2 separate regions of the Homo sapiens genome follow, and region 1 is linked to region 2. Evidence: fine-mapped expression QTL. A gene starts in region 2. The other region holds a variant in brackets. All regions are shown on one strand. Distances are between the middles of the regions. Region 1 overlaps ZNF558 (zinc finger protein 558). Region 2 holds the start of ZNF558 (zinc finger protein 558).

What was found. PIP is the estimated chance that this variant, and not a neighbour inherited with it, causes the effect.
Region 1: its variant is fine-mapped to the expression of ZNF558 in whole blood (TOPMed, PIP above 0.99).

What each region holds. Positions count from the first base shown.
Region 1 is chr19:8,797,572-8,814,604 of GRCh38, forward strand. It overlaps ZNF558 (zinc finger protein 558), which reads right to left. Exons shown (of 10, transcript NM_144693.3): 8 at 15,556-15,651; 9 at 14,990-15,072; 10 at 8,599-14,492. The coding sequence ends at 13,710. Among named protein-coding and RNA genes, the nearest start is that of ZNF558, 26 kb to the right of the region's middle. The variant T/C (reference allele first, on the strand shown) is at 8,724.
Region 2 is chr19:8,825,694-8,841,856 of GRCh38, forward strand. It overlaps ZNF558 (zinc finger protein 558), which reads right to left and starts at 6,611. Exons shown (of 10, transcript NM_144693.3): 1 at 6,516-6,611; 2 at 5,625-5,708. MBD3L1 (methyl-CpG binding domain protein 3 like 1) reads left to right here and starts at 6,684. Exons shown (of 3, transcript NM_001393532.1): 1 at 6,684-6,829; 2 at 15,222-15,306. RefSeq lists silencers at 6,391-6,660, 7,161-7,420.

The DNA of each region.
Region 1 (17,033 bases), 28 kb before region 2:
TTGCATTCCTAGGTATTTTATTCTCTTTGAAGCAATTATGAATGGGAGTTCACTTATGATTTGGCTCTGTGTTTGTCTGTTATTGGTGTATAAGAATGCTTGTGATTTTTGTACATTGATTTTGTATCCTGAGACTTTGCTGAAGTTGCTTATCAGCTTAAGGAGATTTTGGGCTGAGACAATGGGGTTTTCTAGATATACAATCATGTCGTCTGCAAACAGGGACAATTTGACTTCCTGTTTTCCTAACTGAATACCCTTTATTTCCTTCTCCTGCCTAATTGCCCTGGCCAGAACTTCCAACACTATGTTGAATAGGAGTGGTGAGAGAGGGCATCCCTGTCTTGTGCCAGTTTTCAAAGGGAATGTTTCCAGTTTTTGCCCATTCAGTATGATATTGGCTGTGGGTTTGTCATAGATAGCTCTTAGTATTTTGAGATATGTCCCATCAATACCTAATTTATTGAGAGTTTTTAGCATGAAGGGTTGTTGAATTTTGTCAAAGGCCTTTTCTGCATCTATTGAGATAATCATGTGGTTTTTGTCTTTGGTTCTGTTTATATGCTGGATTACATTTATTGATTTGTGTATATTGAACCAGCCTTGCATCCCAGGGATGAAGCCCACTTGATCATGGTGGATAAGCTTTTTGATGTGCTGCTGGATTCGGTTTGCCAGTATTTTATTGAGGATTTTCGCATCAATGTTCATCAAGGATATTGGTCTAAAATTCTCTTTTTTGGTTGTGTCTCTGCCCGGCTTTGGTATCAGGATGATGCTGGCCTCATAAAACGAGTTAGGGAGGATTCCCTCTTTTTCTATTGATTGGAATAGTTTCAGAAGGAATGGTACCAGTTCCTCCTTGTACCTCTGGTAGAATTCGGCTGTGAATCCATCTGGTCCTGGAATCTTTTTGGTTGGTAAGCTATTGATTATTGCCACAGTTTCAGCTCCTGTTATTGGTCTATTCAGAGATTCAACTTCTTCCTGGTTTAGTCTTGGGAGAGTGTATGTGTCGAGGAATTTATCCATTTCTTCTAGATTTTCTAGTTTATTTGCATAGAGGTGTTTGTAGTATTCTCTCATGGTAGTTTGTATTTCTGTGGGATCGGTGGTGATATCCCCTTTATCATTTTTTATTGTGTCTATTTGATTCTTCTCTCTTTTTTTCTTTATTAGTCTTGCTAGTGGTCTATCAATTTTGTTGATCCTTTCAAAAAACCAGCTCCTGGATTCACTAATTTTTTGAAGGGTTTTTTTGGTCTCTATTTCCTTCAGTTCTGATCTGATTTTAGTTATTTCTTGCCTTCTGCTAGCTTTTGAATGTGTTTGCTCTTGCTTTTCTAGTTCTTTTAATTGTGATGTTAGGGTGTCCATTTTGGATCTTTCCTGCTTTCTCTTGTGGGCATTTAGTGCTATAAATTTCCCTCTACACACTGCTTTGAATGTGTCCCAGAGATTCTGGTATATTGTGTCTTTGTTCTCATTGGTTTCAAAGAACATCTTTATTTCTGCCTTCATTTCATTATGTACCCAGTAGTCATTCAGGAGCAGGTTGTTCAGTTTCCATGTAGTTGAGCAGTTTTGAGTGGGTTTCTTAATCCTGAGTTCTAGTTTGATTGCACTGTGGTCTGAGAGACAGTTTGTTATAATTTCTGTTCTTTTACATTTGCTGAGGAGAGCTTTACTTCCAACTATGTGGTCAATTTTGGAATAGGTGTTGTGTGGTGCTGAAAAAAATGTACATTCTGTTGATTTGGGGTGGAGAGTTCTGTAGATGTCTATTAGGTCTGCTTGGTGTAGAGCTGAGTTCAATTCCTGGGTATCCTTGTTAACTTTCTGTCTCATTGATCTGTCTAATGTTGACAGTGGGGTGTTAAAGTCTCCCATTATTATTGTGTGGGAGTCTAAGTCTTTTTGTAGGTCACTCAGGACTTGCTTTATGAATCTGGGTGCTCCTGTATTGGGGGCATATATATTTAGGATAGTTAGCTCTTCTTGTTGAATTGATCCCTTTACCATTATGTAATGGCCTTCTTTGTCTCTTTCGATCTTTGTTGGTTTAAAGTCTGTTTTATCAGAGACTAGGATTACAACCCCTGCCTTTTTTTGTTTTCCATTTGCTTGGTAGATCTTCCTCCATCCTTTTATTTTGAGCCTATGTGTGTCTCTGCACGTGAGATGGGTTTCCTGAATACAGCACACTGATGGGTCTTGACTCTTTATCCAATTTGCCAGTCTGTGTCTTTTAATTGGAGCATTTAGTCCATTTACATTTAAAGTTAATATTGTTATATGTGAATTTGATCCTGTCATTATGATGTTAGCTGGTTATTTTGCTCGTTAGTTGATGCAGTTTCTTCCTAGTCTTGATGGTCTTTACATTTTGGCATGATTTTGCAGGGGCTGGTTCCAGTTGTTCCTTTCCACGTTTAGTGCTTCCTTCAGGGACTTTTTTAGGGCAGGCCTGGTGGTGACAAAATCTCTCAGCATTTGCTTGCTTGTAAAGTATTTTATTTCTCCTTCACTTATGAAGTTTAGTTTGGCTGGATATGAAATTCTGGGTTGAAAATTCTTTTCTTTAAGAATGTTGAATATTGGCCCCCACTCTCTTCTGGCTTGTAGAGTTTCTGCTGAGAGATCCGCTGTTAGTCTGATGGGCTTCCCTTTGTGAGTAACCCGACCTTTCTCTCTGGCTGCCCTTAACATTTTTTCCTTCATTTCAACTTTGGTCAATCTGACAATTATGTGTCTTGGAGTTGCTCTTCTTGAGGAATATCTTTGTGGCATTCTCTGCATTTCCTGAATCTGAATGTTGGCCTGCCTTGCTAGATTGGGGAAGTTCTCCTGGATAATATCCTGCAGAGTGTTTTCCAACTTGGTTCCATTCTCCCTGTCACTTTCAGGTACACTGATCAGATGCAGATTTGGTCTTTTCACATAGTCCCATATTTCTTGGAGGCTTTGTTCATTTCTTTTTATTCTTTTTTCTCTAAACTTCCCTTCTCACTTCATTTCATTCATTTCATCTTCCATCACTGCTACCCTTTCTTCCAGTTGATTGCATCGGCTCCTGAGGCTTCTGCATTCTTCACGTAGTTCTTGAGCCTTGGCTTTCAACTCCATCAGCTCCTTTAAGCACTTCTCTGTATTGGTTATTCTAGTTATACATTCGTCTAAATTTTTTTCAAAGTTTTCAACTTCTTTGCCTTTGGTTTGAATTTCCTCCTGTAGCTCGGAGTAGTTTGATCGTCTGAAGACTTCTTCTCTCAACTCGTCAAAGTCATTCTCCGTCCAGCTTTGTTCCGTTGCTGGTGACGAACTGCATTCCTTTGGAGGAGAGGCGCTCTGCTTTTTAGAGTTTCAGTTTTTCTGCTCTGTTTTTTCCCCATCTTTGTGGTTTTATCTACTTTTGGTCTTTGATGATGGTGATGTGCAGATGGGTTTTTGGTGTGGATGTCCTTTCTGTTTGTTAGTTTTCCTTCTAACAGACAGGACCCTCAGCTGCAGGTCTGTTGGAGTTTGCTCGAGGTCCACTCCAGACCCTGTTTGCCTGGGTATCAGCAGCCGTGTCTGCAGAACCGCGGATTTTCATGAACCACGAATGCTGCTGTCTGATCGTTCCTCTGGAAGTTTTGTCTCAGATAAGTACCCGGCCGTGTGAGGTGTCAGTCTGCCCCTACTGGGGGGTGCCTCCCAGTTAGGCTGCTCAGGGGTCAGGGGTCAGGGACCCACTTGAGGAGGCAGTCTGCCTGTTCTCAGATCTCCAGCTGCATGCTGGGAGAACCACTGCTCCTTCAGAGCTGTCAGACAGGGACATTTAAGTCTGCAGAGGTTACTGCTGTCTTTTTGTTTGTCTGTGCCCTGCCCCCAGAGGTGGAGCCTACAGAGGCAGGCAGGCCTACTTGAGCTGTGGTGGGCTCCACCCAGTTCGAGCTTCCTGGCTGCTTTGTTTACCTAAGTGAGCCTGAGCAATGCGGGCACCCTTCCCCCAGCCTCGCTGCTGCCTTGCAGTTTAATCTCAGACTGCTGTGCTAGCAATCAGCAAGACTCCATGGGCATAGGACCCTCCGAGCCAGGTGCGGGATACAATCTCCTGGTGTGCCGTTTCCTAAGCCCATCGGAAAAGCGCAGTATTTGGGTGGGAGTGACCCAATTTTCCAGGTGCTGTCTGTCACCCTTTCCTTGACCAGGAAAGGGAACTCCCTGACCCCTTGCACTTCCCGAGTGAGGCAATGCCTTGCCCTGCTTCAGCTCGCACACGGCGCACTGCACCCACTGTCCTGCGCCCACTGTCTGGCACTCCCTAGTGAGATGCACCCAGTACCTCAGATGGAAATGCAGAAATCACCCATCTTCTGTGTCGCTCACTCTGGGAGCTGTAGACTGGAGCTGTTCCTATTTGGCCATCTTGGCTCCTCCCTCCTAATTTTTCTATTTTTAGTAGAGACAGGGTTTCACCATGTTGGTCAGGCTAGTCTCGAACTCCTGACCTCGTGATTCACCTGCCTCGGCCTCCCAAAGTGCTGGGATTACAGGCATGAGCCACCGTGCCCAGCCCCTAAACTCTTAAATAGTTTTAGTCTGTAAGAGAGAATACTCCTGACCTAAATTGGCCAGAAGCCCCTCTCAGGTTTATTCCCAAAATAAACCTGTCTTTGACTGTTGAGCTGCTTTTCCTGTTTCTTTCTTCAACTCTTACACTCAACATATAGAGAACATCAAGAGTATCAATAAAGAGATAGAAATTACGAAAAGGAACTGAATAGAACTTGAACCATATCCCTGTATTTTCCCTGTCCAACTCCCCCTAAGCAACCACTAATCTACTTTCCATCTGTATAGATTTATCTATTTTTGACATTTCATAGAAATGGAATTACATATAGTTGGTCTTTTGTGAGTAGCGTCTTTCCCTTAGCACAAGGTTTTCATTCATGTAGACACATCCTTCCCACCTCTGTGGCTGAATAATACACAATGTATGAATATATCACATTAAAAACACTCATTTATAAATTGATGGGCATTTGGGTTGTTCTGGTCCATTTTTTGCTGGTCCAAGCTTCACCTTCAGATCAGTTACCTGTCTTTTTTTTTTTTTTTTTTTTTTTTGAGACAGGATCTTGCTCCACAGAACAAATCACAGCTCAATGCAGCCTTGACTTCCTGGGCTCAAGCAATCTCCTGCCTCAGCTTTTTGAGTAGCTGAAACTACAGGCACATGCCACCATGCCCAGCTAATTTTTTTTTGGTAGAGATGGGGTCTTACTATGTTGCCCAGGCTTGTCTTGAACTCCTGATCTCAAGTGATCCTCCTGCCTTGGCCTCCCAAAGCACTGGCCTTAAGGTGTGAGCTACAGTTCCCATCCTATTATTAAATATTTTCAAACAGGGAGATAATTTGAAATAATTTTACAAGTGAGCATCCACTTATAGACTGAATTGTCCCCATCCCCTCACCCCCCAAATTAATATGCTGGAGCCCTAACCCCAGTACCTCAGAATGGGACTCTATGTGTAAGATCAGGCTTTTTTTTTTTTTTTTTTTTTTTTTTTTTTTTTTTTGAGATGGAGTCTCACTCTGTCACCAGGCTGGAGTGCAGTGGTGCGATCTTAGCTCACTGCAACCTCCGCCTCCCAGGTTCAAGCGATCTCCTGCCTTAGCCTCTGAGTAGCTGTGACTACAGGAACGTGCCACCATCCCCAGGTAATTTTTGTATTTTTAGTACAGACAGGGTTTCACCATGTTGGCCAGGATGGTCTCAATCTCTTGACCTCATGATCCGCCCACGTTGGCCTCCCAAAGTGCTGGGATTACAGGCATGAACCACCGTACCCGGCCAAGATCAGGCTTTTAAAGAGGCAATTAAGTAAGTTAAAATGAGGCTTTTAGGGTGTGCCCTAATCCAGTTTGGCTGGTGTTTTTATAAGGAAATTAGGACATAATAGACCAAGAAGCATTGTGGTGCACAGACAGAAGGGGCAGCAAGGGGGTAGCCATCTGCAAGCCATGCAGAGACCTCAGGAGAAACCAACCTTGCCAGCCCCTTGATCTTGGACTTCCAGCCTCCAGGACTGTGGGAAAATAAATTTCTACTTTTTATTTATTTATTTTCTTTGAAATGGAGTCTCACTCTGTTGCCCAGGCTGGAGTGCAATGGTGCGATCTTGGCTTACCGCAACTTCTGCCTCCCAGGTTCAAGTGATTCTCTTGCCTCAGACTCCCAAGTAGGTGGGACTACAGGCATGCACCACCATGCCCACACGATTTTTGTATTTTTAGTAAAGACGGGGTTTTGCTATGTTGGCCACGCTGGTCTAGAACTCCTGACCTCAAATGATCCACCACCCTCGGCCTCCCAAAGTGCTGGATTACAGGTGTGAGCCACTGGGCCTGGCCCAAATTTCTACTTTTCACCAGCAAGTCTGTGGTATTTTATAGTAGCCCTACCAAACTAATATAATCTACCATCTAGATTCCATCAGTGATACTTTATTATACTTGCCTGACCACATTGATCTCTGTATCATTCATCAACCCATCTTTATTTTTATTTTTTTTTTGCATTTTGAAGTAGTTTGCAGACAGCAATAGATTTCTCCCCTAAACATTTTTAACATACATATCATTAATTAGAGTTCAAAATTTGGGGCTGGAAGATCTCTTTCCAAGGTGGCTCATCTTCTGCCTAGCAATGTGGTGCTGGAAAGTTGGTCCTTTGCCACGGCGCTGCTTGAGTGTCCTCATGGCATGGTGGATGGCTTTCTCCAGGGAGGGAGCAATTGAAGAAACCGAGGAAGCTTCAGTGTGTCTTATGACCTGGCCTGAGATGCCACACATGGTCACTTCAGCAGCAGCACTGTATTGATTATATGGGTCATCTGATTAAATATTGGGGTGTGTGTGGGGTGCTACACAGGACAGGAATCTCAGGTGGCAAGGATCCTTGGTGAGCATCTTGAAGGCTAGCGAACACATCCACCTTTCCTCCAGACCACCTCATCAGCCCAGAAATCCCCACCCCCTGTTATCTTTTTTTTCTGCTGTAGAGCCTGGTTTCATTGTAGCTGTCTGGGGCCTCTGGCATTTTTATGGCTGTGTTTGGGATAAGTTGCAAGGTTTCCTTTCCCCTTTCTCCCCTCTCTGTTCTTCTCAGCCTCACCCCCAGCTTCACCCTTCCTTTTCCTCTCAGGGCCTTTCTGAGCAGTTGATGCTCTGAGGGTCAGCTGGGAATGCAGCCTATAAGAGCGGTCTGCTGGGTGCAGAAAATGTTGGGGGAAGGTTTGCTTCCTGGGCTCCTGTCACCTCCTGTATTATGGGAGCTTGGGGGCATATGCTGGCATGTTGGGACTACTGTTGTCTTCCATGTTCTAACATTCCCTGGGAAAGGAGACACTTGGTTTGATGGGGCTCTACGTATCTGCTATCAGGTGGGGACAGACATCTGCATTGCAAGAGCAAGCTGAAGAGTTGCCTACTAGGGCTCAGCTGGTTTCTTGTGTTTGGAATAAAGAGGGCTCACTGAAGGGGCAGTCATCTTATGTTAGGGAAGACTTGAGGGACTCACACTGTGGGCTCTCCTCATTTATGTTGAGAGTGTTGCTTCCTGATGCTTCTGTCAACTCTTATTTTGTAATAATCGAATGAGAGGTAGAACCTGGCGGGTTGCCTGTTGAGATTCTCATGATTGTATTGGGGGAAGGCTGTGGTATCCTTGCTGGGGATATTTGTGTCTGCTCTTGGGGAGACAAGGGAGGCAAGCTAGGGTTTGTGTTGAGTGAGAGTGTTGTGGAATTTGGAGCTTTCTTTAGTATGTAGGGGATTGGAAATTGCCTTTTTGGGTTTCCTTCATCTAATGTTAGAGGAATATAGGGGGGTCACTTGAAGTTCTCATCTGATGGAATCCTCATTGTGTTGAGGGGTGTAACTAAGAGGCTGGAGGTACGAGCTCCTGTTTTTTAGGGCCTGGAGGATCACTACCTTTGACTCCCATTTTTTAAATATTGGGGAGTCAGGGAAGTGTACCTGGATGGAGGTCCCATTGTCTTAGTTTGGGAAGAAGATGGGTTGTTATTCTGTGGGGGTCCACTTATCTCTGTCCAGTGGGTTTGGAAGGGTCTCTTTTAACCTATTTTATCTAGTGTTGAGGGGGTTACTAGAGTCACTTTCTGGGTCTTCCTTATTATTGGTATAGATGAGGTAGGTCACTGGGCTTGGGATCCTCATTCTTTAGTGCTGAGGGGCAGCTGAGGAAGTCACTTGTGGGATTGCTGTCATTTCAAGTATCAGACATAACTGGAGGTGCTTATTGAAATTTCCATCAGTTCTAGTTTTGGGAGGATGGATGTCTTGCTTTCTCAGTATCTTTTGTGTTTGGGGATGACACCTGCTAACTGAGGTCTTGTTGCCTCTAGTTTTGGAGGGGCCTGATGACCCCTTACTAGGACTTCTATCATCTCTATTGTTGGATGCAGACTATACGCACCACTTGTTGGGCCTTCCATAATCACTAGTCTTGTGTGTTTGTGTGTGTTGGGGGAGAAATCTCCTGCAGTGCTTTCCACCACCTCTAGTTTGGGGAGATCAATGCAATGTGTTTTTAAAAGCATTTTATTTTGGAAAGTTTAGATATACATAAAAGTTGTAAAACTATACAGGGTTGTTTTATACAGTCAGTACTGATTTATATTTACTTGCATCTTATGTTTCCTGTTGATCT[T/C]AATTCCTGGAATTATGTATGTCTCTATGGAATCATTTTCCTGAAGCCTGAAGAAATCTCTTCAGTGTTTCTGAAAATACGGTTATGCTGTTAATTCTCTCAGCTTAAAAAAATCCCTCCCAGGCCGGGCGTGGTGGCTCACGCCTGTAATCCCAGCACTTTGGGAGACCGAGGTGGGCAAATCATGTGAGGTCAAAGGATCGAGACCATCCTGGCCAACATGGTGAAACCCTGTCTCCACTAAAAATACAAAAATTAGCTGGGCGTGGTAGCACACACCTGTAGTCCCAGCTACTCAGGAGGCTGAGGCAGGAGAATCACTTGAACCCAGGAGGAGGAGGTTGCAGTGAGCCGAGATCATGCCACTGCACTCCAGCATGGCGACAGAGTGAGACTCCATCTCAAAAAAAAAAAAAAAAATATTCCCTCCCATTGGAAAACATTGTTGCCTTCAGTTTTGAAGAATATTTTCTTAGGTTACAGAACTTTTGATTGACAATTTCCCCCTCCTCCAACCCATTTAACCCTTTATATGTCAGATGTCATTCATTGTCTTCTTGCTTCCATAGTTTCTTTTGAAAAGTCATCATTAGTCTTACTGATGCTGCTTTGAAAGCAATGTGTCCTTCTTCTTTGGTTGTTTGGTAGATTTGCAGTTTGTCTCTCATTTTCTATGGTTTGTCCATGTTTCCTCCATTTCCCTTAACATATTATTCTTGGTTATTTTAAAGTCTTTGTCTGCTAACTCCAATACCCAAATTGTCTCTGGATCTGCTATTGATTTATATATTCATAAATGGGGATATTTTCCTGTCTCAATGGATGAAGGAGAGTGAGGTCTGACCCTGGCTATTTCCTGCAGGAGGACCTGGGGCTGGATGCTATCGCTGACTGACCTCTCTCAGCTCCTGGAATGCAGCCCTCTCCTCTCGTCTCCAGATTCAGTTGCTCCCTCCCTTCGTCCCTTCAGGCTGTGAGGTGTTAGAGCTCTGCCCTGCTAAGCTGCTGGGTGCTTTACAACTTTTTGTGGTTTCCCTGGATCCTGTCCACAGGACTGAGTAGACCCTTTATGAAAACTCTACTTGAATTGTCCTAGTCTGTGGGTGTCAACCTGAGTTCCTGCTGGGACCCTGACTGATGTGCCAACTCACTGAAATAAGGAAAAGTCCTAACAATGTCTCAGAAAACCCAACAAGATCAGGATCTACCATGTCTCTGACCACATCATCTTTTACTGCTCCCTCATCACCCCTTTGTTCCACTCCAGCTGTATTGGCCTCCTTGTTGTGGGCCTTTGCATGCCAACACTACTCTTGCAAGACAAATTCATATGACTCACTGTCCCAACTTGTTGAGATCTCCGCTCAAATGCTCCTTACCAAGAGGCTTTCTTTTCCTAGTTATATAAAATTATTATTCCCAACCCCCCTTAACTCTCCTAAAATGCTTTTTTTTCCTATAACTCTATAATACCATATTTTCTTGATTTTTCTATAATCTGTTCCTCCTCCATTAGGTGAAGTATTTCAATGGCAAAACTTTGCCTGGCACACAGAACATACTCCGTTAATAGGGTAGTGGTTAAGTGCATGGACTGTCTGGGTTCAGATCTTGGCTCTACCATTTACCAGTCAGTGAATGCAGGCAAGTAACTTAAGTGTATCATACCAGTTTTCTCATCTGTAAACTGGGGATAATAACATTACATACTTAAGTTTATAATGCATACTGAGTTAATACTTATATGTCATTTAGAAGGGGGCCTGATCTATGGGAAGTGCAATATAAATGTCTGACCATCAGGAGTTCGAGACTAGCCTGGCCAACATGGTGAAACCCCATCTCTACTAAAAATATAAAAAAATTACCTGGGCGTGGTGGCAGGTGCCTGTAATCCCAGCTACTCAGGAGGCTGAGGCAGGAGAATTGCTGGAACCTGGGAGGCCAAGGTTGCAGTGAGCCGAGATCGCACCATTGCACTCCACCCTTGATGACAAGAGTGAAACTCCATCTAAAATAAATAAATAAATAAATAAATGTTTGACCATTTATTATTAATGCATTACAATACTTTGCTATGTAAAAATATCATCTCCACATAAAAAGGAATACAGAATACCTAATCCTGTATGCATCTAGTTACATAATGTCAAAATATATAAAAATGACAAAATTACAGTGTTAATACATAAACATAATGGAAGAGTTTACCACACCTCTATCACTAAATAAGGTTAGAAAAAGAAATCTGAACATACGTACTGTACTTGGAAATACAATTAAGTTGCATTAATGTTCATATACCCTATATCCAAATATTAGAGAATATACATTGTTTTCAAAGAAACAACATGGGTAAAACTTGACCAATTTATAGGTTTACCAGTTAGATTCTGCATCCTGCTGGAAGTTAACAGAACACCACCTCAAAAACAAACAACAGATCATGTTGGCTTCAATCAGTTAGGGGTTTCTTTTTTTAAAAATATTTATTTGTTTATTTTGAGATGGAGTCTCGCTCTGTTGCCAGGCTGGAGTGCACTGGCGCCATCTTGGCTCACTGCAACCTCTACCTCCCAGGTTCAGGCAATTCTCCTGTCTCAGTTTCCCGAGTAGCTGGGAATACAGGTGTGCACCACCACACCCAGCTAATCTTTATACTTTTAGTAGAGATAGGGTTTCACCACGTTGGCCAGGATGGTCTCAATCTGTTGACCTCATGATCCACCCACCTCAGCCTCTCAAAAGTGCTGGGATTAAAGGCGTGAGCCACCACACCCAGCCTAGGGGTTTCTTTTAGTCACATAAGAAGTATAAGAATAAGGAGTCCAGAGCAGATGCAGCCAATCGGAGGCTCCTGGAGAGCCCAAAGCATTGTGATTTTTGGCTGCACTTTGGTTTCTGTCATTGTGGTCAAAAAGAAGCTCTTCAAACTCTAGACCTTGAGGCCACTTTCCAAGAGACAGAATGGGTGAGGTGAATGGAAAATATGTGAGGAGAACAAGCCAGGAGATGTTCCACACAGTGACTTCGACTTACTTCTCATTGCCAGGGGAGTGCGAAAAAACCCGCCTGGGCTTCAGGAAAAACTATAAGATTGAGAACTTTCGATATTGTTCACAGACAACTTGAACAACATGTTTGTTTCTTTAAACGAATAAACTGAAGAGAACGGACACTGGGAAAGAAACCAACAGTATTTGGCATACCAAGATAGAGAGAAAATAATCAGTATCATAAAGCTCATGTACTCTGCCAAAAATACCACTACATTAGAAAAATGTGTTTATAAATACTAATTTCCATTATGATAAACTGAATCACTCAGAAGGTATTTGGAAATAACTTTTTGAATATGCAATGTGTGGATGTCTTTAACAAGCAAATTAATTATAATAAATACATTGCATTAAAATTATGAAATATGTTAATGTTTATTTTAGGGAACAGCTATACACAAATGTTTATATTAAAAGAAAAAAAGACTAAAAAAATTAATGAGCCAGCAGTCCAATCTACAGATGAGACACTGATAAAGGATATCCCACACTCAAAACAGTGATTATACTTTTTGTTCCCAGTGAAAATTGTGGCCACTCAGTGAAGAGTTCAGGCTGAGGCATCCTAACACTGATTACATTCCTAGGGGTTTCTCCATATAAGTTCTCTCATATACAAGAAAGAGAAGAATCACTGAAAAATTTTCCAATATTAATATACTCATAGGTTTTGCATCCAGGGAGAAGTTCCATATTTTCCCTAACACAGAGGCATCACTGAAGGCTTTCTCTTCTTCTTTATATTTCAAGTTTCTCTGTAGTGTGAATGCTCACAAGTTTCCTAACAAATGTAGAAAAACAGAAAGCTCTCCAATATTGATGATGTTCAATGGGGCATTCTCTCCAGAATTAATTCTCAAGTCCCTTAAAAACCGATAGAACATTCAAGGCTTTCCCATAGTCACTGCAGAATACCACACTATAGTTTGCTCAGTAATGTGAACACTTTTGCTGTAGGGTATTCCGCATTTCTGAGTGTTGTTCCATTGTGTGATTTCCAGTGCGTCTTAAGGGATGACTGTCACTGAAGCCTTCTGAGACCTTCACAGGTTTTCTCCCTTAGTGTGAGCTGTCACATGAATCCCTGCTGATAGCACTGAAGGCTTTCTACAGCTGTTCCATTCTTCAGGATTCTCTCAGTACATAATCTTCTGGGCCCATGAAGGTGAGAATTCGAGCTGAGAGCTTTACCATACAGATTGTCCTCAAAAGGTTTCTCTTCAGAGTGAATTAATAGGAGTTACTGAATGCTATTTCATATTGATTAGAGTAGAAGGATGATGTGCTGAGGGCTTTTCTTCATTAATTCCATGGCAAATTTCCCAGATGCTTCTGAGTTATCTGTTTCCTGGTATTCATACCTTCTGCAGTCTCTCACATTGTATCAGGATTGGTGTGTTGTGAGACCAACACAATAGGAAATAAGTGAAAGCTTAGCAGTCCTCCTGAGGATAGGTCATAAAAGCCATTTTGGCCTCTGTATTGGTCCTCTCTTGGATCACTAACCTTGGCGAGAACTTATTGCCAAATTGTCAAGGAGCTGGGCCTTGTAAAGAGGCCTACATGGTAATGACTGAAGGTCCCCTGACAACAACCAACATCAACTTTCCAGGCATGTGAATAAGTCATCTTGGAAGTGGACTGTTCATCAGTAAAGATGTTAGATGACTATAGCTTTGGCTGACATCTTGATTGTAAGTAAAGGCATGAGAGATCCTGCAGTGTAACTACAGAGATAAGCTGTTCTTGAATTCCTGATCTGTAGAAATTGTTAGAGAATAAACATTTCGTGTTTGAAGCCACAAAATTTGCGGGGATCATTTGTTATGCTGCAACAAATAACTTATATATCCAGTGTGAGCTCTCTCAAACTATCTTAGGGATGAAAGATCAATGAGTGCTTTCCTCCAGAAGTTCCTGCAGTAATTCATATCCATCTATTATGTATTCTCTTGTGCACAGAAAGATAGGAGTTACTTGTGAAGGATTTCCCACAATGATTACATTCATAGGGTTTTTCTCCAGTGTGAGTTCTTAAGTGTTTCTTCACAGCTGAGAGATTATTAAAGGCTTTTCCACAGTCACTGCACTCGTAGGGTTTCTCTCCGGTATGTATTCTCTTGTGCACAGTAAGAGAAAAGCTACTGCTGAAGGATTTCCCACACTCGTTACATTCATAGGGTTTTTCTCCAGTATGAGTTCTTACGTGCTGTGTCAGATAGGAGCTCTTCCTGAAGGTTTTCCCACAATCGTGACATTCATAAGGTTTCTCCCCTGTATGAATGCTATTGTGCCCAGTGAGAGAGGACCTTGTGCTGAAAGCTTTTCCACACTGATTACATTCATGGTGATTCTCCCCCGTGTGAATCCTCTTGTGGCTTTTGAGGTTACAACTGGTGCGGAAAACGTGAAAACACTGGTTACATTCATAGGGTTTTTCTCCAGTGTGAATTCTCAAATGCAGTCTAAGGGATGAGGGATCACTAAATGCTTTCCCACAGTGATTGCATTCATAGGGTTTCTCCCCATTATGGATTCTCTTATGAATAGTAAGGTAAGATCTGCTACTGAAGGACTTCCCACATTGACTACAGTCATAGGGTTTTTCTCCAGTATGAATTCTCTTGTGCTGAGTTAGGTTAGATTTCGTGCTGAAGACTTTAAAACACTGATTACATTCATTGAGTTTCACTCCACGATGACTTCTTTCCTGTGGATTAAGAGATGAATGATAACTATAATTTATAATATTTGAAATACTTAATGTTCTCCTAGGAATCTTCTCTCCCAGGAATTCTGTTACATTATTATAATTGATATTTTGGCTACTTTCAGTGGTTGTATGTGATTTCTGCCCAGTTTTAGCTCTAAGAAAGTTAAAAAACATAGATGCTTTGCCACAAGTCCTTATCAGATGCACAAAACATTTTCTGATAACGTGTGGATGAAGTTTTGTTCCAACAGTCAATATCTGAGCCACAGATAGGAAATATTTACTTGTGGGAACTCTCCGTGAAGAAATAAGTTTGGAGCTAACTCACACTTCTCTAAATATTTATAATTTTCACAGTGTCTCTCCAGGAACACAGCATTCTCAATTATAAATGACACTTTCCTTTAATGCCTCTCCTGGTTATTTTGTGCCCTTTCTAAACTTAAGGCATTCTCCTACTGTAGAAAACCAGAAATCACCCATGTTAGTCTTACCGTTTTTACACCTTTAGACTGTTCTTTTCTGAAAACATTCTTCTTAGGAGTTAACCATTTGGCTTTAAGTAGAGTCTCCAAATCTGAAACAAATTGAAAAGAAATTTAGGTTGATGGAGAAAAGAAATGGAAAAGTGTACACATGAGTAAAGGCAGATTCTGAGGGATCAGGGTTTTTGAGGATGTTTGCAACAAAGAGGATTTGGTTATGAAAATTTTAGGTATTAATTTTAAAAAAGGATTCTAGACAAATTGAGATTGATCACAGATTGACAAGAGGAGTGATCAGGAATGCAAAGTGGAAAGGAACTTGACTGAAATTTTCAAAAGAGTTGCATCTTTGTTTCTTCCCTGAGCCCAAAGTGAAGTATGAGATGATGACAAGGGAGTTAGAGAGAAAAGAAAGGACATGAGGAAGCTCACACCAAATGTTCTCGTGCATGTTTGTCAGGAACAGGGTATTTTACAAAGTTCCCTGATTGACATGAACTAATGTAATACTCCCAACCCCCAAGTCACTGGCCAGAGCTATTCCTCACAAGGGCTCATATCCACCTGGTGCTCACCTGGACAGGTGCTTGGTAGAATTCCTCTTTCCTCTGTCACCACCTTCTTGTCTTGTTCCAACTGGGATATCAGACTGGGTTTATTAACACGACACCCTATTTATGGAAACAATACACATGATATAGGTAACAGTGCTGGGGACAACCAAGTCCATGAAAGAAAGCCAACATTTATGAAGATGGAAAAGTGTGACTTTAGGAGCAGTGAAATAAATTATGCCTTAATTCTTTTCTTTTTTTTATTTATTTTGAGATGGAGTCTTGCTCTGTCGCCCGGGTTGAAGTGCAGTGGCATGATCTCGGCTCACTGCAACCTCTGCCTTCCAGGTTCAAGCGATTCTCCTGCCTCAGCCTCCCAAGTAGTTGGGACTACAGGTGCACACAACCACGCCCGGCTAATTTTTGTATTTTTAGTAGAGACGGGGTTTCACCATATTGGCCAGGCAGGTCTTGATCTCTTGATCTCCTGGCCTCGTGATCCACCCACCTTGGCCTCCCAAAGTGCTGGGATTACAGGCATGAGCCACCACGCCCTGCCAATTATACCTTAATTCTAGTGCATATGGTAACTCTCACTGAACAAAAATGCAACAAGCATATTCAACTAGATATTCAGGGTGATAGGGCATAAACAGCCCCAGAAGGCCATGCCTGAGTTCAAATGCACACTTCAGAGGCCCCAAAACTTTTAACCATGAAGAATATAAAGTCAGGACAAGAAATAGATCTTCAGTTCATAAGGCAGGAATTAGAGACTGCCCATGAGGGTGGGACCATATGGTCCCATTCATCACTGTACTCCCAAGTCACTGCACAGACCTAGGAACACAGAGGTGCTCAAGAAAACTTGAAAGAAGTGATGACAGTGACAGTGGTGGAGGACGGAATTCCAAACGTTCATCCCTCCACAAAAACAGTGAGTAAACTGGCAAAAGCGGTCCGAATCAACTTTATCGGAATTCTTGAAATGTATCAAAAGTCCACAGCAATCAGGAGAATGCCTTCTCAGAAAACCCAGCTGAATCTGGGTAAGAGAGCTTTATGATACTTTAAATGGACCTCTTTCCCCTGCTTTTTCTACAACCTTGAAGACAACAGCCTGCATTCCTAGTACTTGCAGGGAGCAGAACAGACCTTACTCTGTGGTTGCTCTTCCTGACCTGTCTGGTGGTTCCCTGAAGGACTGGCTCAAAGGGTTGTCTTTATTTATCTAACTCCAAATTCTTTCAGGACTGAGCTGGTTACCTGGAACACACGTGATCGACAGATGTAAAGGTAAATGTATTAGTCAGTACTGCTTGAGGCAAGAGAAAACAGTAGAAGCAAACAAAAGACTAACCGAAAAGCCTGAAAGGAAAAATGGGGAAAAAGATGTTTGGGGAGTAGGACTTTGAAAATCTTCCTCATATTCTTAAGAACCTGTAATTCCAAGCACATACTCAGGGCTGGGAGCATGCCCAGAAAATACCTGAGAAGGC
Region 2 (16,163 bases):
GCAGGGATGGGGGCACTGGACATTCAGGGTGAGTTCGGGTTCCGTCAAAAAATCAAGTTGGAGGGAGTCTTTGGCTCTTGGGCCTCTGTGGTAGACAGATGATTAACTTCCTGCTCTCCCAAGAAAGGGGTCTGTGTTCTAATCCCCAGAACCTCTGGATCTACTCCCTTACATGGCAAAAGGGATTCTGCAGCTGTGAGGAAGGCAAGGATCCTGACATGGGGGATGATGCTGGGTGGGCCCACTGTGATTACAGGGGTCCTTATAAAAGGGAAACAGGAGGGTCAGTTCAAAGAAGGATGGGATGAGATGAGAGAAGAAGGGAGCGTGTGTGTAGCAGGGAGGAGATAACATACAGAGAGACTGGAAGATGCTGCCCTGCTGGTGTTGATGATGGAGGAACAAGCCACAGTCAGGGAAGGCTGGTGGCCTCTACAAGATGAAAAACGCAGGAAATGGGTTCTCCCCTAGAGCCTCTAGAGCAGTGGTCCCCAACCTTTCTGGTACCAGGGACTGGTTTCGTGGAAGACAATTTTTCCATGGAGCACGGGGCGGCAGTGGGGCTGGGCAGGGAATGGTTTCAGGATGATGTTTTATAAGCACATTACATTTATTCTGCACTTTATTTCTATTATATTACACAGTAATATATAATGAAATAATTATACGACTCACCATAATATAGAGTCAGTGGGAGCCCTGAGCTTGTTTTCCTGCAACTAGATGGTCCCATCTGGGGGTGATGGGAGACAGCAACAGATCATCAGGAATTAGATTCTCCTAAGGAGTGTGCAATCCAGATCCCTCACATGCAAAGTTCACAATAGGGTTTGGGCTCCTATGAGAATCGAATGCTGCCACTGATCGGCCAGGAGGTGGAGCTCAGGTGGTAATGCGAGCAATGAGGAGTGGCTGTAAATACAGATGAAGCTTCGCTCACCTGCCACTCACATCTTGCTGTGCAGCCCTGTTTATAAGCACTGGTCCGTGGCCCAGGGGCTGGGGACTCCTGCTCTAGAGGGAATGCAGGCCTTCCAGCTTATTGAGGATTTCTGACCTCCAGCAAGGCAAGAGGATAAATGTGTGTTGTTTTAAGTCCCTGAATTTGTGGTAGTTTGTTATAGCATCAATAGGAAACTAACATGCCTTTCACATCACACCTTCCCTTTGGGTGAGTTCAGCAGACCCAGGCAACTGCTGCAGAACTTCCCTACCCTCTACAGGGGGAAGTATCTCCTTTTTCCCCGTAACAGACCTAATGTGCAGGTAGGCACACAGTAGTTCCAGTCACTGAGCTGGGGAGTGAGGGGGGGTTGGCCTCCAGCCAGCTCACTGGGCCTCCAAGAAAAAAACAAGTAGAGAAGGTACCTGGGACATTTTCAGGCCCCAAGTCCCTATTCAAGGCTGTCTGGAAGCAGAAATTTCCCACTAGGACAGGAGGGGTCTCTTCAGTTTACAGATCCTGTGACACCTGCCCTGCCCTGGATACAGTGCTGGAGGATGGTCACAGCAGATGGGCCACTCTATGTCAGCTGCCCAACACAACTTCTGGTGATGATGGAAATGTTCTATAATTCTGCTCTAATACTTGAAATGTGACTAGTATGGCTGAGAAAATAAATTTTATTTTTTTTGGGAGCAATCATCTGATTCCTAAACTACCTCCAAACACCCCCTCTTTTGCCTCTTAAATGTCTTCCTTCTGAATCCTGAAGTCCTTGTTATCTGCATGCTTACACTACATGCAAATTGCATCACCCTCTGGCCCACAACTCTTTAGTGTCTTCCCACTGGCCTGAGAACAGAGTCTGAAGTGAGGCCTAGTATGGTTCTGCCTCCCTCTTGATCTTGGTCTTGGTCACACTTCTTTCCCTATTCTTTTTTTTTTTTTTTTTTTTTTTTGAGGAGTCTCACTCTTACACCCAGGCTGAATGCAGTGGTGCAATCTCTGCTCACTGCAACCTCAGCCTCCCAGGTTCAAGCAATTCTCTTGTCTCAGCCTCCCGAGCAGCTGGGACTACAGGTGTGCACCACCACACCCAGCTAATTTTCGTATTTTTAGTAGAGACGGGGTTTCACCATGTTGGCCAGGCTGGTCTTGAACTTCTGACATCAGGTGATCAGCCCACCTTGGTCTCCTAAAGTGCTGGGATTACAGGTGTGAGCCACTGCGCCCAGCTTCTTTCCCTGTTCTTGTCTCGGCTTCAGCCATCCCTGTGTTCCCAGTGCAGGGAGCGTGGCAGCCTCTCTCCTGCTGCAGGGCCTTTCCTTACACAGCTTCTTCGACGGCAGTGCTCTCTTGGACATAACCCTGTCCCCTCACTCTAGTCGAGCCCTATGACTAGCTACATCTGACCCCAACTTGGAGATGGAGCAGCAATTCCCTTTTTCAGGGGCCTGTGAACCCCAAGTGGGAAAATAAAGGAAAATCCTGAAGTTCCTTTAAGGGAAATTCCGAGCATCCAGCTAGCCCCAAAAGTAAATATGGAACTTGTTAAACAGGAAGGTAATAGTAACCTAAAACAACAGCCAAAGAAGTTAAGGCTCCAGAGATGTTCGCTTTCCCCATGGAAACTAAAGATAACATCTTAACATGCGTCCCTGAGTTGCCTTTCAGAGGCTGGGACTCCCACTGAGGACCCCACCAAATGGAGCTGCTGGCTCAGAGACCCCAGATAAGCGGGACATGAAGGCTGAGCTTCAGCGTTCTTTGTGCTAAGTTTCTTCTTGAGGGGCTTGGAGAAAGTCACTTCTCCCAGCCAGTTAACATTTTCCTACTGACTCTAAATTTTTAAACAAAGCTTCTTTTCTTTAACCAATTACAAATCAGAAAAATCTTTGAATCTACCTATGACAAGCTCCTGCTTCAAGACATCCTTGCCCTTTTAAGTCTAAACCAGTGTGTAACCTCCATGTATTGCTTTATGATTTTGCCTGTAGCTTCTGCTTTTCTGTAACTTACCATTGCCTTCAGAAATCCTTGCCTAGCCGGGCACGGTGGCTCATGTCTGTAATCCCAGCACTTTGGGAGGCCTAGGCAGGCGGATCACCTGAGGTCAGGAGTTTGAGGCCAACCTGGCTAACATGGTGAAACTCTGTCTCTACTCAAAATACAAAAAATTTGCCAGGTGTGGTGGTATGTGCCTGTAATCCTAGGGACTGGGGAGGCTGAGGCAGGAAAATCACTTGAACCTGGGAGGCAGACGTTGCAGTGAGCTGAGATCGTGCCATTGCACTCCAGCCTGGGTGACCAAGTGAGATTCTGTCTCATTAAAAAAAAAAAAAAGGCCGGGTGTGGTGGCTCATGCCTGTATCATCTCAGCACTTTGGGAGGCTGAGGCGGGTGGATCACGAAGTCAGGAGATTAAGACCAGCCGGGCCAACATGGTGAAACCCCGTCTCTACTGAAAATACAAAAATTAACCGGGCATGGTGGTAGGCGCCTGTAATCCCAGCTACTCAGGAGGCTGCGGCAGAACTGCTTGAACCCGGGAGGCCGGGGGTTGCAGTGAGCTGAGATTGCAACACAGTACTCCAGCCTGGGTAACAGAGTGAGACTCCATCTCAAAAAAAAAAAAATTCCTTGCCTAAAAGCCACTGGGGAGGCCAGGATTTGAACATTTAATGTCTGGTCCTCCTTGCTTAGTGCTGTGCAATAAAAGCCTTTCTATCTATCGTAGCAACCCTCAATATAGACATCTGGTTTCACTGCACCACCAGGTGAGCAGACCCCAGTTTGGTTCTGTAACAACTTAAGCTCTCAAGCTAAATATCCTTCCCAAGAAAGCTTCCCTGTTCCCTCTGATCAAGTTCACTAGTGCCAAGCTCCCACATCACTCCTGTCATTCATGGTTTAAAATTTATCTTCCCTGTTAGAAGGTAAACTTTATGTAGGACAGGGGCCATTTCAGGTCCTCCAGGGTCCCTGTGCATCTGACCTAGGACCTGACTCATGGAGGCGACCTGGTTTGCCAAGGATTGTCCCGGTTTGAACACTGGATGCCCTGTGCCCTAGCAAACCCCTTGGTCCTGAAAAAATGAGGATGGTTGGTCACCATTAACTGTGCACTCAAATAATATCTATTGCATGATAAGTAAACATTCCTTCAAGAATGCTGTAGGAAAGCTAGAATGGAAAAGGTGAACACACACACAATTAGTAGAAACCCCACAATTTAATACTAGATTACTTAACATGATTCTCTGCAATATGAATCACCATACTGTTATTTCAGAGAAGTTTTAAGAAACAAAGTTAATTCCTATTAGGAGGTGATATCGTTGGCTCTGTGTCCCCCCACCCAAATCTCATCTCGAGTTGTAATAATCCCTATGTGTCAGAGGAGGGTCCTGGTAGGAGGTGACTGAATCATGGGGGCGGACTTCCCCCTTGCTGTTCTCCTGATAGTAAGTTCCCACAAGATCTGATGGTTTAGAAGTTTGGCGTTTATGTCTTCTCTCTCTCTCCTGCTGCCATGTAAGACGTGCCTTGCTTTCCCTTTGCTTTCTGCCATGATCGTAAGTTTCCTGAGGCCTCCCCCGCCATGCAGAACTGAGTCAATTAAACTTCTTTCCTTTGTAAGTCACTCAGTCTCAGGGAGTTATTTATAGCAGTGTGAAAACTCTCAGGTAGTTCTTTATAGCAGTGTGAAAAAGGACTAATACAGGAGGCAAGGTGCAGAGGACAATCTTTTTGGAAACCAGTTCCCTACCCTTCAATCTATAAGTTGTTGCTTAATATTCTTCCAAATGTTTTCAAATCTCATTAGGAAAAAAAAAATCCCATTACTCAAAACACATCTGGTCGCCGGTCAATTTAATTTTAAATTTGTTACTAATAAATCATCCTTTTTACAAATGCCCTTATATTTTGAAGTTTGGTGGAGGGCCAATATGCCTTTAGAAATCAAATCAACAGCTGGGTGCGGTGGCTCTTGCCTGTAATCCCAGCACTTTGGGAGGCTGAGGTGGGCGGACCACTTGAGGTCAGGAGTTAAAGACCAGCCTGGCCAACATGGCAAAAACCTGTCTCTACTAAAAATACAAACAAAATTAGCTGGGCGTGGTGGCACTTGCCTGTAGTCCCAGCTACTCAGGAAACTGAGGCAGGAGATTTGCTTGAGTCTGGGAGGTGGAGGTTGACATGAGCCAAGATCGCGCCACTGCACTCCAACCTGGCCAACAGAGTGAGACTTGGTCTCAAGAAAAAAAAAAAAAGTCAAATCAAACAGGCCTGAAAAATGTTGCTAAGTAGTCCTGCTAGTTGTTAGTGGGAAGACTTGTAACACTACATATACATGTAAATATTTTCTATACTTATATAAAATTCAGAAACTTTTAGCATTACGGCATACCAGAAAATCTGTCTTTAGCTACAGTTACACATCTTTACGTTATTTGTATGTTTGTTTTGTGGATACTTATTTGCATGTAACTGTATTTACTTATTTACACACATGTAACCATAAACACCTCTGTCTTTTTACCTTGAACTTTCCTTAAGATACCTTCACTCTTAGTGACTTCAATGTGGTTACAACCCCAGCACAGGAAAAGCCCACGAGGAGTTCTTCTACACAGCAGAGCCTGCTGAAACCTTGTTGTAGGTTCCACACTGTACTCACCTGGTCACCCAAAAACCCACAACAACAGGTGGACCTTGTGGCAGGCTTCAACACGAATCTGAGCTTGAATGATGCTTTTCTCATCTGAAAAAAAAAAAAAGACACAAAGATTTCTTTCGAGGCTTTGTATAGGTTGTACAGTTGTTGGATACGGCTGCCGGAAACACCATCCCATTCACTTTTTTTGGGTACTCAATGATTAAATGTGTAATAAGGGCCCAGCCTGTGGGCCATGACTGGCTTTACCTGATTCCCATCTGGCCATCTGCTCCGTAAGAGGGGAGAAAGCAGCTTAACGCTGTGTGCATTTGACTTGCTCAACTTACTACGCTGGAGAGAGATTCTATGGTGACTCCACAGGCTTTAAAAATATCTTGTCACTTAGAGGCCCTATTAAGTGACTAAACTGAATTTTTAACAATTTATGTAGTTTATTCAGAACTGCAGAGATTTTTTTTTTAAGGCCCTAGAGCAGGGTTTCCCAACCTGGCACTACTGATAATTCTTTGTTGTGGGGGACTGTCCTGTACAACGTAGGATCTTTAAGAGCAAGCAGCGTCCCTCTTCCCCGGCCTCCACCCTCTAGGTGACAGTAGCAGCCTCCCCTCCCCACAATTTGTGAAAACCACAGTCGTCTCCAGCTACAGCCAAAAGTCCCCTGGGGTGCGGAATCGCCCCGGGTGAGGGCGACTGGGGTTCCCTGAGGAGGCAACAGCGGCGCGGGGCCCCGACCCAGGAGCAAGCAGCAGCTTCGTGCTGACCTAAGCTCACAGCCCGAGGCCTCATGAACCGAAACACGGCTCCCTGGAGGGACGCAGGGCCCGTGGCTGGCGGTGTCCGCGGCCCACGTCGCCCCCTGGACTCGGACCCGAGCCCCCGCCAGTCGCTCACCGAGCCCGGCCCCTCCCGCGGGGCCAAAAGCGCCGACTCGCGGGGACGGAGGGACTCGCTCCCCGCTGCCCCACGCGCGGCCCCTCCCACGGTACCGCCCCGCGCTTCCGCTTCCGGTCTGGGGAGAGGTGCGCTGCACGTCCCCTTCCGGCTCGCGCGGGCAGCCTCGCAGAGTCGAGCGTGTTGGGGGTTCGGCGCTTAGGCGACAGGCGCGGCGGGCGGGAGCGGCGGCCGCGAACCCCAGCCTTGGGCAGAGGTGTTCTAGTTTGCTTAGTGGGCACAAAGTTGGGCCCTGGCCTGGGGCAGTAGCGGGGGTAAGGTTGGCCCTGGGGGCGGGGCCAGGCTGTGAGCCGCACGAGGCCTGGGGGCGGGGCTGGTTGTGGGCGGAGATCAGTTCCGGGGCGGGGCTGAAGGCGGGGAACCGGCTGAGGCCGTACCAGGCCTGGAGGGCGAGGCTGATTGGGCAGAGACCAGTTCCAGGGTCGGGGCTGTGGGTGGGGCCCAGTTCTCGGGGCGGATGGTATAAGGCTTCTAGAGCGGGGATGACTGAGCAGAGACCAGTTACAGGGGTGGAGACCTCCATTTCCGGGGCGGGGCTGAGCGGGAACCAGGCTGTGGTTGTGACAGCCCTGGAGGTTGGGGCTGGCTGTGGGCGGAGATAAGCTCCGGGCCGGGCGGAGGGCGGGGACTAGGCTGTGGGTGTACCGGTCTTGGAGGGCAGTGGTGATTGGCAGAGAGCAGTTCTAGGGGCGGAGCTATGGGGTGGCAGCAAGCCTGGGGGCGGGGCTGACTGTGGGCGGAGACCAGTTCTGGGGGCGGGACTGTGGGCTGCACCAGGCCTGGGGAGGGGGCAGTGGGTGGAGACCAGTTCCAGGGGCAGGGATCTGGGTATGAATAAAAGGGTGTATGATGTGGGTGGGTTGGGATAGGCCCAGGAGCCAGGATTGTGGGAGATCAGATTCAGGGGTAGGGCCTTCCTTGGATCCCTAGATTGTTGATACAGTTACTGCCCCATGTTCATACAACCCAATAGGATCAGATTATGTATGCACATTTGTCTATAACTTGCTTTCCCAAGGCAGAACATAGTGATTTAACACTAAGAGTTTAGGGGAGCAGGAGAGGACTGGGTCATAGATACACATATAGGAAAACTTAAGAATGGTACAAAGTCAGTCAAATATTCTCCCACCACGGTCTTTCAGTTCTTTTGCTCAGAGGCAAAAATAATTTTCTCCTCTATCTTTCCAGATATAGTGTGGACATGTATGTGTGTGTATGTGTGTATGCCGTAGTCATATTCATGGAATAAATGCTATTACCTCCCCCCCAACAAGTCTCTGTTTTATACACCATGGATATAGACTGAACAAAATAGGTAAACGTCCTTGCCCTCAGAGAACGTGCATTTTAGTTGTGAGTTGGGCAGGAGAAATGGACAGTGAATGTGATAAATAGAATACATGGTGGGTTGGTGCGTTAGATACCACTAAGTGCTGGTTGGACCTGGTGGCTTACGCTTGTAATCCCAACACTTTGGGAGGCCGAGGCAGGCAGATCACCTGAGGTCAGGAGTTCGAGACCAGCCTGCCAACATGGTGAAACCCCGTCTCTACTAAAAATACAAAATTAGCCGGGCGTGGTGGCGGATGCCTTGTAATCCCAGGTACTTGGGAGGCTGAGGCAGGAGAATAGCTTGAACTCGGGAGGTGGAGGTTGAAGTGAGCCGAGATTGCAGCCGGTGCACTCCAGCCCGGGTGACGAGCAAGACTCCATCTCAAAAAACAAAACAAAACAAAAACCAAAAACCATAAACAAAAAAAGATACTGGTAAGTGCAAAGGGAAAAAATTTTATGTAAGAGAGTGGTAACATTTAAAATCAGCCAGGAAGAAATACTTTCAATGAATGATATTGTTTCATGCACCCGTCCTTTCAGAAAAAAATAGTTAGATCTCTGCTTCCCAAAAATATCCATTTTCAGGTGGCTGAAGGAAGTTTAAGCAAAAATGAACAAGTTCAAAATTCAATATACTAGGAAAGTTCACTGTGGAAAGACTGTTCTCTTCAACAAATTGTGCTGGGACAACTAGATGCCAATATACAAAAGAATGAAATTGGGCTGGGCGTGGTGGCTCACGCCTGTAACCCCAGCACTTTGGGAGGCTGAGGCAGGCAGATCACGAGGTCAAGATATCGAGACCATCCTGGCTAACATGGTGAAACCCCGTCTCTACTAAAAATACCAAAATTAGCTGGGCGTGGTGGCGGGCGCCTATAGTCCCAGCTACTCGGGAGACTGAGGCAGAAGAATCGTTTGAACCCAGGAGGTGGAGATTGCAGTGAGCCGAGATCACCCCACTGCACTCCAGCCTGAGAACAGAGCGAGACTCCATCAAAAAAAAAAAACAAACCAAAACCAAAAAAAAACAAAAAAAAAACCAACCAACCAAGAAACAAACAAAAAACAGAGAATGAAATTGGACCTCTACTTCACACCATGTACAAAAGTGAGCTCAAAATAGATCATAGACCTAAAGGTAAGAGCTAAAACTATAAACTTCTTGGAAGAAAACATAGGTGTCAAACTTTGTGATCTTGGGTTAGGCAATTGTTTCTTAGATATGACATCAAAAACAGGTGGCGAAAGAAAAAATATATAAATTGGACTTAACATTAAAAAACATTGATGCTTCAAAGGACACCATCAAGAAAAAAGACAAACATGGACTGGGTGAAGACATTTACAAATGATTTATCTGATACATGACTTGTATTCAAAATATATAAAGGCTTGCGACTCAGCAATAAAAAGATACCCAATTAAAAGTGAACAAAGAGTTTTTTTTTTTTTTTCTTTTTGAGGTGGAGTCTCCTTCTGTCACCTAGGCTGGAGTGCTGTGGCACCATTTTGGCTCACTGCATCCTCTGCCTCCTGGATTCAAGCGATTCTCCTGCCTCAGCCTCCCAAGTAGCTGGGACCACAGGCGTTCACCACCACGCCTGGCTAATTTTTGTATTTTTAGCAGAGAGAGGGTTTTGCCATGTTGGCCAGGCTGGTCTTGAACTCCTGACCTCAAGTGATCTGCCCACCTTGGCCTCCCTAAGTGCTGGGATTACAGGTGTGAGCCACTGCACCCAGCCTGAAAAATGAACAAAGAGTTCGAATCGTCATTTCTACAAAGAAGATACACAAATGGCAAATATATACATGAAAAGATGCTCGGCCCCATTAATCATTAGGGAAGTTAATATCAAAACTTCAATAAAATACTACTTCACACCCATTGGGATAATTAAAATTAAAAAGATAGCCAATAACAAAGATTGGCAAAGACAAGGAGAAATTGGAATTCTTATACATTGCTGTCAGGATTGTAAAATGGTGCACCCACTTTGCAAAATAGTTTGGCAGTTCCTCAAAAAGTCATAGAGTTGCCACGTGACCCAGCAATTTTATTTCCAGTATATGCCCAAGAGAAATGAAAACATGTGTTCACATGACAGCTTGTACATGAATGTTCATAGCAGCATTATACATAATAGCCCAAAATTTTGTATGTCCCAAATATCAGTCAACTGATGAATGGATAAATAAAATGTGGTATATCCACACAACGGATTATTATTCATCCATTAAACAGAATACATATTCCATGGATGAACCTTGAAAACATTACGGTAAGTAAAAGAAGCCACTCATAAAAAACCCACATTTTGTATAATTCAATTTAAATAAAATTTCCAGAATAAGAAAATCCAAAGAGACAATAGATTAGTGGCAAATGTTGGGGAAAAGGGAAATGAGGGGAAGTGGGTAATGGTATGGATTTCATTTTAGATGAAAATAAGATTAGATAGTGGTGACGATTGCGCAACTGTGTGAATGTACTAAAAACCATTTTACACAAAAGTGTAAAAACTGTACACTTTAAAAGGTTGAATATTATGGTAGCTCAATAAAGTTTTTATTTAAAAAATGTAGAATTATACACATAAATTCTTCAGTTAGGCATAATAAGAGAATAAAAGTGGAAAAATAAAATACTACATAAATATGAGTGCTTCTTCCTCAAAATAATAGAAGAAAAGTGGAAAAAGTAAAATACTACAAAAATGTGAGTTCTTCTCTTCTTCCTCTTCCTCCTCCTCCTTTCTTCCTTCTTCCTTACTCCTCCCCTTCCTCCTCCTCCTTGTCCTCCTCCTTCTTCTTTCTTCTTTCCTCCTCCTCCTTCTTCTCTTCCTTTTCCTCCTCCTCCCCCCCTCTCCTCCTCCTTCTTTCTTCTTTTTTCTTTTTTTTTGGAGACAGGATCTTGCTTTGTCACCCAGGCTGGAGTGCAGTGGTGCAAACATGGCTCATTGCAGCCTCGACCTCCTGGGCTCAAGTCATTCTCCCTCCTCAGCTTCCCGAGTAGCTGGGACTGCAGGCGTGCACCACCACGCCCAGCTAGTTTTTGTATTTTTTATAGAGACAGGGACTCGCCACACCACAGAGGCTAGTCTCGAACTCCTGAGCGCAAGCAATCCCTTTGCCTTGGCTGCCCAAAGTGCTGGGATTTTAGGCATGACCCCATCGTATCCAGCTTAAGTGTATCTTAATTTTCCACACCATCACATTATTAAATGGCAAAACAAACTGGGGATAAATAATTGTAAAAATCTATGACATGTGGGCTCATATCATTATTACATAAAGAATATTTTGGATAAATAAGCAAAAGATGAACAAGCCAGTAAAAACATCATCAAAGACAAAGGCTATGAACCACACACTCCTTTACAAATACATACAACTGCCCAATACTCTAATTAGCAAAGAGGCATAAATTAAAATAATGGCATTATGTTTGTGCCTCTCAAGTAATGCAAAACATTTTAAATGGCCAGTTTGTCAAGACATGAAGAAATGAATGACCTCGCCCTCTGCTAGCAGCATTGATAAGTACCAGTTTCTCAGCAGGTACTTGGTAACATATACCCAAAGCTGTACGAATGTGCATATTTATCAACCCAGCAATTTTACAGTGATCTAAATCAGAGAAATGTTTGAACCTTGTTAAAAAGGATTGATCATCTACCTCCTATTTAATATGACAGAAGATTAGTAACAATGGCAAAATAAGTACTGGTGTAGCCGTATGAAATGACATTCATGGGCCTTAAAACAACAATGTCAATGTACATTTAGTTATATTAAATTACAATCGGGATATATTGTTAGATGTGAGAAGCTGGCTGCAGAATGAAGTCGGCAGTGTGTATCCATGTTGTAACCCACAAAGTCTAGGAATATAAAATTCCAGGGCTCGACAACCACTTAATGCCTGGACCCTTTCTGCCTCGAATGGGGGTGGCTAGAAACTTCTCTGGCTGGAGGGCAGAAGGCAGAGTGCAAAGTTTTGCCTCAAGCCTTGTGACAGGGATAAAGACCCTCACCCTTCACACTGGCCTCATGGACAAGACAAGTTCTTGCTTTCCCACAGAGTACCTGAGATCTGAGGATACTTTATACTCTGATAGTCACTTCCGGCTACCTTAATTCTGCTAGAGTAAAAACAACTAGTAGCTTCCACCTAACCAGATGACGCATAAAATAATTGCTACTAAATATTTCATTCCATATTTTGGTTAGTAAGGAAGAGAAGGAGGTAAAGAAACTTGAAGTGAAACAACTGGAAGGGACCAAGATGGAGCAGGCAGAGTTCCTTATACACAGGAGACAGCAAGGCTGAAATTCTACCCAGAAGATCAGCAGCCCTGGCCAGGCACGGTGGCTCACGCCTGTAATCCCAGCACTTTGGGAGGCCGAGGCGGGCGGATCATGACATCAAGAGATTGAGACCATCCTGGATAACATGGTGAAACCCCGTCTCTACTAAAAATACAAAAAATAAGCTGGGCGTGGTGGTGCACACCTGTAGTCCCAGCTACTCAGGAGGCTGAGGCAGGAGAATCGCTTGAACCCAGGAGGCAGAGGTTGCAGTGAGCCGAGATCGCATCACTGCACTGCACTCCAGCCTGGACGACAGAGCAAGACTCCATCTCAAAAAAAAAAAAAAAAAAAAAAAAAAAAAAAGATCAGCAGCCCCACTATCACCTTCCTCCAGGGCAAGGCCACCTGTGGAAATGACAGATGTCAAATAATCCCCAAAGGAATTGCTAAGGATGGAGATGTCCCATGGAAACAAACTGCATATTGCCTAACCCTCTCCCGAGGACATGGATATATTGAGATAGTAAATGTTTTGAAGGCTATGCAACTCTGCAAACAACCAAGCATGCACAGAACACAGGCTGTCTGGTGATAACTCCTAGATAAGCACCAATATAGCACCTCAGCCACAGATGGCATGCCACACACAATGAATTCTAAAAGTCTATTTTAACCTGCGATGGCCAACATATTCTCATGTGTGCATGCAATCAATGTAAAAATTATTGAGACGTTTTAGGTGCGACTGGCTGGGGCTGGCATTGTTGGTGGTAAAATAATTTCCCAAGACAGTCGTAGGTAAAGAAAGACAGATTTATTAGAGAAGATATGAAGATAGGTTGCAAGGATGCAACAGGCAGCACAGAAGAGAAGGGGCCATTTGCAAAGAGGCAGAGGTTGGAGGGGATTTTATAGGGTCGTGCTGGAGGCGGCTATGTGCACGTGAGGTGTGCAGATAAGGTCGTGTTCCTGGGACTATGTGCAGACCGAGGTCTTTTGGAACAGAATGTCATGCCAGTGGGTTGTTTGCAGTTAGCCATCTCTCAGAACAATTGTTCTCCCCCAACCAGGGGCCCTTTCCTTGTTGTTGGTTACTTATCTTATTAGGACTCCACATGAGACCTTTTAAATGATTTTTGTTTTTTGTAATGAGTTCCAGAAATCCAGTTCGTACTTTCCACTGATGGCACATCTCAATTTGCGAGTTGAATGTTATCAGATGTACTTGCCCCGTATTTAGATTTTCTTTTTTTTCTTTTCTTTTCTTTTTTTTTTTTTTTTTGAGACAGAGTCTCGCACTGTCGCCCAGGCTGGAGTGCAGTGGCGCCATCTCGGCTCACTGCAAGCTCCGCCTCCCAGGTTCACGCCATTCTCCTGCCTCAGCCTCCTGAGTAGCTGGGATACAGGTGTGTGCCACCACACCCACCTGTATTAATATTATGGCTAATATTTTGTATTTTTAGTAGAGATGGGGTTTCACTGTGTTAGCTAGGATGGTCTCAATCTCCTGACCTCATGATCTGCCCGCCTCGGCCTCCCAAAGTGCTGGGATTACAGGTGTGAGCCACCGTGCCTGGCCATATTTAGATTTTCTAGGGTTCACAGCTGTAAAGTAAGATTCACATGTCCAGGTTGTTCCAAGCATACTTCAAAGCTTTCCACTTCAAGAGTCATGTCAGATGAATAATGAGAATTCCTTTGGGATCTAACAACAAAGGGGTCATTGTGGCCTTAGCAACAGAAGCAGCTGAGAACGGTGAAGGAAAACAGAAGTTTGGGGTGGCCTGAGGAGTTGCTGGAGGTGAGGAGATAGGAGACATAGATGTAGATGATCTTTTCTCAGTGGTTCATAGCTAAGGGGAAGGGATAGGCAGTAGTGGTGAAGGAGGGGGTCCCAGGAAGTTTAGGAGAGGAGTGTCTGTGTAGCTCGGAGAAACTTGAACATGTTTAAATGCCGAAGAAGGGATTCAGTAGAAAAACAGAAGTTAAAGATATGGGGGCATCTGTAATCCCAGCACTTTGGGAGGTTGAGGCGGGCAGATCATGAGGTCAGGAGTTCGAGGCCACTCTGGCCAACATGGCGAAACCCCATCGCTACTAAAAATACCAAAAAATTAGCTGGACATAGAGGTATGTGCCTGTAATCCCAGCTACTTGGGAGGCTGAGGCAAGATAATTGCTTGAACCCGGGCAGTGGAGGTTGCAGTGAGCCCAGATCATCCCACTGTACTCCAGTCTGGGCTATAGAGCGGGACTCCGTCTCAAAAAAAAAAAAAAAACAAAAACAGATGATACAAAGGTTACATTGCAATATTGGAAGCATAAAATTAACAAAAAGGAAGAAGGAATGAGGCTCAGATCACTCTTGGTGGATAAAGGAAACATATTTATGTATTTATGAGACAAGGTCTTGCTCTGTTGCCAAGGCTAGAGTACAGTGGCCTGATTGCCGCTCACTGCAACCTCGACCTCCTGGGCTCAAGCTATCCTCTTCACTCGGCCTCCCTCACTCAGCTGGGACCTCAGACATGTATCATCACCCCCAGCTAACTTTTTAATTTTTAGTAGAGATGGGGGTCCCCCTACGTTGCCCTGACTGGTCTCAAACTCCTGTGTTCAAGTGGCCCTCCCGCCTCAGCCTACCAAAGTGCTGGGATTAGATGTGTGAGCCACCATGCCTGGCAGGAAATCTCTTTAAATACAATTAAAGGAAATTTGGAAACATTCAATGCTTATCAGGGATATTTGCAGATTTGGCAACTAACGTCTTTGGGAACCATCAGGTAAGTTAAGGAGAATTAAATATCTATGAGGAAAAAAGAAAGCTGGAGAAAATTTTGCAACAGGTTTTGGGGAAAATCAAGGAGTAAACATGACAGTGCATACACAGAAAATAAAGTTTCTACGCATGATGGATTCTTCCCAGTTGATGGAGAATATTTTGTATTTATAGTGGCACTAAGACGTCATGTCACGTGATTCTTTTTTCAGCAGTGATCATATGACGGTGGTAGCCATGGCGTCACAGAGAACAGGGACCTTCCAAGTTTGAAGTTTTACAAGGCAGGTGTGATAAGTGGTAAGGAATTTTGGATTAATCTAAATGAATTTTTTTTTTTTTTTTTAGACAGGGTCTCATTCTGTTGCTCAGGCTGGAGTGCAATGATGTGATCTCTGCTCACTGCAACCTCCACCTCCTGGGTTCAAGTGATTCTCCCACCTCAGCCTTCCGAGTAGCTGGGACTACAGGTGTGCGCCACCACACCCAGCTAATTCTTTTTTTTTTTTTTTGGTAGAGATGGGGTTTCACCATGTTGGCCAGCCTGGTCTTGAACTCCTGGCCTCAAGTGATCCACCCACCTCGGCCTCCCAAAGTGCTGAGATTACAGGCGTGGAGCCACCGTGCCCGGCCTCTAAGGGAAATATTGAGGTCGCAGACCACAGAATCCAAGAGTGCTAGGAATCAGAGGAGAGAGAGGAAGGTGAAGATACGGAGGTCCGGAGTAATTCAAATACCCAAATCACAGATACTTGCTCCTCAAGGTATGTTCATCAAGAACAGGTATCTATGGTATGGGCATTTGAATTAAAAAACCTGGAAATCAGAAATTTATAGTGGGTGAATAAGTTTTCCGATTTATTTATTTATTTGTTTTGAGACAGTCTCGCTCTGTTGCCCAGACTGGAGTGCAGTGGTGCGATCTCGGCTCACTGCCACCTCCAGCTCCCGGGTTCAAGCTATTCTCCTGCCTCAGCCTCCCGAGTAGCTGGGATTACAGGTGCCCGCCACCATGCCTAGCTAATTTTTGTATTTTTTGTAGAGATGGGGTTTCGCCATGTTGGCCAGGCTGGTCTTGAACTCCTGACCTCAAGCGATTCGCCTGCCTTGGCCTCCCAAAGTGCTGGGATTACAGATGTAAGCCACTGTGCTGGGTC